Homo sapiens: one gene and its partner. The protein of the gene in region 1 purifies or fractionates together with the protein of each later gene. This does not show direct contact. Each region holds a gene or a part of one and is shown in the gene's direction. Other genes may lie near its edges. The genes, in order: SPINK4 and TMEM67.

Region 1 (3,287 bases):
ATGCCAGTCCTGACTGAGTTCTCACCTTGACCTCAGGCCTGTCCTAAAACCCTTTCAGACAGCCTCAATTAAGCCCCAAGCTCTGCCCCATTTCTTCAGCCTTCGCACACTTTGCAGCCTTTCTGACATGGGCCTGATAGATCATGCAGGCCAGGGAGAGTTCAGGAGCCCCCAGGGAGAGAGGGGCCTCCTGGGAATGATGGGTGGTTCCGTATCCTGGGGTCTTCAATGGGACCAGCAGAAGTTCTGATTAGTGCCTCTGAAGAGGGTGTGAACAAGTCCCCAGGAGCTTGAGGGCACAAACTCACTCCACACACATAGACATAAACACAGGCATACGCTTGAATGCCTGCACACCGGGGGCTCCAGAGACACAGGTACACATATGTACACATCCAGCCATAGGCACACACGTGGTCATGCACACGCACATACAAGCAAACACACCAAGGGGCTCTGAGTGGTTGGTTTCATCTTCACTGGACCCACACTGGGGGCCTTCTTGACTCTGATACCTCACTGGGGCCCCACTGGTTCCGAGCAGAACCCCTGTATCCCTCCCCACTGCCTCTGAATCCCTGAGTCCTCTCCCTCCCTTCTCTTCCACAGCCCATCTGTGAACACATGGTAGAGTCTCCAACCTGTTCCCAGATGTCCAACCTGGTCTGCGGCACTGATGGGCTCACATATACGAATGAATGCCAGCTCTGCTTGGCCCGGATGTAAGTCTGCCCCACAACCCCTGCTTGCTTGGGTGGGCCCCATCTCTGGTGCACAGTCTGAAAGGAGCAAGACTTGACCTGCTTCTTCCTTCATACACGCTTGACCTGAGAAGAGTCCTCCAACATATGCCCCTAATAGAATGAGTGCCAGATTAACTCAAAGAAGGCACATGGTTCCAAGCAGAAATCTAGAAGCTGGTGGTGGATAGGGAGTAGGGGCAGAAACCATTTTCCTTGTTCTGCCTTGATTGACTAGGTGACCTCATCTGTTTTTTCATTCGTCTAGCCAGCAATTATTTATTGAGCATTTACTATGTGCTAGGCACTGGGGCTAGAACAGAGCCTAAGTTAGACAGCATCACTGGCCTTCTGGAACATACAATTGGTGTAAGGGGGAAGCCAGGCTGATAGTCAGCCAATTGCAGCACAGAATTTTTTTTTTTTTTTTTTGAGACAGACTCTCACTGTCACTCAGGCTGGAGTGCAGTGGCACGATCTTGGCTCATTGCAACCTCCGCCTCCTGGGTTCAAGTATTCTCCTGCCTCAGCCTCCCGAATAGCTGGGATTACAGGCGCCCACCACCACACCTGGCTAATTTTTTTTTTTTTTTGTATTTTAAGTAGACATGGGGTTTCACCATGTTGGCCAGGCTGGTCTCGAACTCCCGATCTCAAGTGATCCACCCGCCTCAGCCTCCCAAAGTGCTAGGATTACAGGCATGAGCCACCGTGCCCGGCCTTCAGCACAGAATTCTAAGGGATCAGTGGGGCACACAGGAATAAGTAGAAATTAGCTAGGAAAAAGGAGCAAGGGAAGATAATTCCAAGTAGATGAATTTGAAAAGGTCTACAAGGAAAAGTTTACATTTGAGGAAATATAAGAAGTTGGACATGTTGGAGTATAAGGTTTAAGGGAGAATCAGGGAGAGGCAAGAAGTGAGTCCAGAAAGATGAGCAGGGCTAGAACATGACCTCCCTACATCAGATCACCTATTGGCTCTTAGTTTCTTCATCAATAAAACCCATCTTCTATGATCCTGAGAACTAAATGAGACCATGGAAGTGAAGAAAGTCCTCGGAAGCTGCAAAGCTCTGGATAGATGTGAAAGTTTGTATTTGAGGAAATATAAGGAACATCAGGATGTTGTCCTAGCTTAGAGAAAGATCATGCTAATCAAAGACTCATGGTTAGGAGGTACATTGGGAGTGGAATTGACAGGCTTGGTATGTGACTGTATGTAAAGGCTGAGGGGAAGGAGGCAGCATACTGGTTTCTGATTTGTGGGCTTGGGTGGCCAGTGGTTTCATGGGCTGAGATGGGTGGTTTGGGGGTCTGTACCAGTTCTGTGGGGGGCAGTGATGTTTGTGGACAGTTGAGCCCCTAGGACATCCCACTGGATATGGACAACTGCATGAACAGGTAGGACATAGGTCCGAGCTGGAGACAGATTTGGCAGCCATCAGCGTGCGCTGGTGGTGGAAACCCCAGGAAGCTAAAATCCCCCAGGGGAAGGGTGTACAAAAAAGGAAAAGCTGTAGAAGGATGTGCCCATGGACCCTTGGGATCTGCCCTGTATCCATACACTGCATATGTGGGCGACGCTCAGCAGGATGTCTGGATGGACTGTGCCAGGTCCCTGAATGGTACACTACAGCTCCTGAGAAGGTAGCCTCATGCCTGTCTTCTTTGATCCTAGAAAAACCAAACAGGACATCCAGATCATGAAAGATGGCAAATGCTGATCCCACAGGAGCACCTCAAGCCATGAAGTGTCAGCTGGAGAACAGTGGTGGGCATGGAGAGGATATGACATGAAATAAAAGATCCAGCCCAACTGAGTGAAGTGGTCAGTGTCTCTGGGGACACTGGTTGCAGAGGGGATAGGAGGTGGATCTTGCATTGTCGCCTCTACTCTGAATTTGATGTCCAGCTTCTCTCCGTCCCTCTGGTGCTCCTCAACCCTGTCACATGTCCCCTCAGAGGTCCCAGTTATCTTCTGCCTGCCTGAGAGGCCAGTCCCTGACCCCAGGATGCTGCCTAGTACTCCTGTCTGCCCCAGCCTGGACTATCATTCAGGCCAAGAACCTAGGTGAGGTCTGTATCCTCTGCCACTGCTGGGGTGCACGGCCCAGCCTCAGAAAGCCTCTGTGAAATCAGGAACAGTAGCTCATACCTATAATCCCAGCACTTTGGGAGGCTGAGGGTGGCAGGATTGCTTCAGGCCAGCCTGGGCAACATAGCAAGACTGTCTTTACAATTTTTTTTTTTTTTAATTAGCCAGGCTTGGTGGCATGCACCTGTAGTCCCAGCTATTCAGGAGGCTGAGGTGGGAGGGGATTGCTTGAGCCCAGGAAGTCGAGGCTGCAGTGACCCATGATCGCATCACTGCACTCCAGCCTGAGTGACAAAGTGAAACCCTGCCTCAAAAAAGAAAAAAAAAAGCTTTGTGAGAGTCATCCTGTGCCCCCCATGGCTTCCTCCTGGGTTGTGCCAGCACTCCAAGGCATGTACACACAGACACGTGGCACAGCAATGGCTGATATTCAGGCAGTGTACACAGTACA
Region 2 (2,700 bases), on another chromosome or scaffold:
AGAAATTATCATCTTGAAATAATTTTATGTATCACTATGGGATTCAGATACCTGATACATGAAAATAGTTGAGAGAATTAGCTAATTTAATCTAGATATTTTAATCGACGTGCATATTTAATTCTGTTTATATTTCTTTTCATTCTGAATTGTTTTAATTTTCCAGATTTTTAGATATATCCGTAATACAGTAGGACAAAAGAATTTGGCATCCAAAACATTGGTGGATCAAAGATTTTTGATTTAACTTCCTGAATAAATAACTTAAAGACTCAGTATAATCATGGCCAAAAAAAAGTCATGATATCAGGTTAGTTTGCCATATTTTTTAAAACTTATAATGCAGACTATTCTGTTTTTGTTTTTTATTTGCAGAAAGATTTATTTTTATAACTTGGGAATATATAACCTGATATAATAGAAAATACTGTTTTCCCATTGTGTGTAGTATTTAATGCAGTAAATAATAAATTAATACTGACAGTGAGGCCAAAAAAAATCTAAATGTTGCTTTCAGCATAATACTTTTTAATGCTAATTAAAACAGTCCCCATCATTTGTCTCTGTAGATTATTTTATAAACTGAGAGCTGCCTGAATCTTCTCACATTGACAAAGTAATTTGATTCCAAGTTTAAGACTAGTTTTCAGTTTGATATTTTCATGTTTTGTGTGCTTATGGTTAAATAAATGTTGAAAGATATTTTCAAGTTTACTTAGAAATTTTAAATTGTATTATTGCTGATTCAATTTGCATCATTCTAATTGCTCATCCTCTTTGGCAGTGGATTAATTCACTGTTGGGTTAATATGCATCTCATGAAATGATATCTTTTCATTCCTTTGTATACCTGTATTAGGTCAGTATACGCTTTCCATGAAATATATTTGCATTTCTAATATAGTTTACATTTATTAAGTTATAACGTATGACATTTTTCCCAATATCATTTTTTATACATTTTAATTACTTAATGTTTTAAGAGTTCTCTTCCAGAGTTTTGCTTTTCAATTACGTTTAAAGACTGTAAATAACAAACAGTAAGGCTGGGCGCTGTGGCTTACGCCTGTAATCCCAGCACTTTGGAAGGCCAAGGCACGTGGATCACTTTAGGTCAGGAGTTCAAGAACAGCCTGGCCAACATGGAAAACCCCATCTCTACAAAAAATACAAAAATTAGTTGGATGTGGTGGCCTGTAATCCCAGCTATTTGGGAGGCTGAGGCATGAGAATAGCTTGAAACCAGGAGGTGGAGGCTGTAGTGAGCCAGATAGCACCACTGCACTCCAGCCAGGATGACAGAGCAAGACCCTGTCTCAGAAAAAACAAAAACAAAACACTGTAAATGTATCATGTTTCTCACTGCTTTCTATGTTAATGCTGTGTAAATACTTAAAATGGAATACTGTATAAATATTATTTATATTTTCTCAGATGAAAATATATACTAAAACATTTGGTATTTCTGTTTTCTGTTTCATTAATGTATATCTGATGGAGTACCATTTAGGAATATAACATTATTGGGGCAGAGGTCCCAGCCATTGCCAAAGTTGAATCTTTTACATTTCCCTGAATCTTGAGGATGACTGAAAAGGAAGTCTTTGAAACTGCAGTTTCTGAAGGATCACAGTACAGGAATGCCTTTATAAAAGCTGCAGAGATAAATACATGTACTTATATGGCATGGATATTTAAAACCACTCACTCAGAAGCATATGAAAGAAATTCAACCATCATTCAACATAGAAGAAGTTAATTTTAGTGCAAAAGTTTTTAAGTATTAAATTTCACAATAAAGGATCAATTGGCTTACTTGCTGATAAATTAAAACAGAAAACATTTAAAATCATTCTAAATTTTGTATGATATTTTTATTTTGGCTAGGTGCATAAAAATGTGTTCAGATTTTCATACACTGTCGACTCCTTTGTTCACATTGTCACAATTTACATTTCCTGATCATGTGCATAATTATTCACTAGATTCATTACCCTTTGTCTATTTCTGTAGTACCCAATCACTATACTTTGACTCTTATATCCCTGATTTTACTGATTTTCTAGAAACATTTGATTTCTCTTCATTTCATAATGAAACAAAACCTAGAGAGGTTCTTTATAAGCTGTTGTGTACTTTGGATGCTCCTTAGAAACATACAGGCCCCTAAAATACTTCTGTAGACCAGTGCCTCTGTTATGGGAGATTTGTAAATGCTTCCTTCTCTGGCATTGCTGTCCTAACTGCCTTTTCAGAAGGCTTTGCTGATGACCTACATTGAGGAACATTCAAAATGATCATTAACTCAGCACTTACAAGCATGAAGCATGTGTTTTTTTTGTAAATATTGACAAATATAAGCTGAGGGGAAATAACTGTAAGTCAAGGAGCAGTGAGGAGTGTGGCTTAATGGAAAGTGCTCCAAATTTAGCAAAAGAAGCCCTGGATTCAAATTAGAATTTTGCCCATCACTCATAAGCTTTGGTATCTTGAACTAAGTCATTTGCCATCATTGAGCTTCATTCTACATCTCTGCAATGAAAATAATATCCTTTGCTTACCACTTGTTGTAAGGATTAGTTTCGTGGGTGTGTGTGTGTGAGACAGAGAGAGAGAGATGGGGTCTCACTCTTATCACCCAGGTTGGAATGCAGTGGCACGATTTTGGCCCACTCTAACCTCTGCCTCCTAGGCTCAAGC

What was found.
Region 2: the proteins of SPINK4 (region 1) and TMEM67 purify together in Homo sapiens (affinity purification with mass spectrometry; 2 studies listed by BioGRID and IntAct, with this or other methods). This does not show direct contact.

The regions. Positions count from the first base shown.
Region 1 is NC_000009.12:33,246,007-33,249,293, forward strand, and holds the end of SPINK4 (serine protease inhibitor Kazal-type 4 precursor), read left to right. Parts: intron 1-609; coding exon 610-722; intron 723-2,419; coding exon 2,420-2,465; 3' UTR 2,466-2,561; downstream 2,562-3,287.
Region 2 is NC_000008.11:93,816,206-93,818,905, forward strand, and holds the end of TMEM67 (meckelin isoform 1 precursor), read left to right. Parts: intron 1-166; coding exon 167-247; 3' UTR 248-1,916; downstream 1,917-2,700. UniProt on the Homo sapiens protein: Required for ciliary structure and function. Part of the tectonic-like complex which is required for tissue-specific ciliogenesis and may regulate ciliary membrane composition.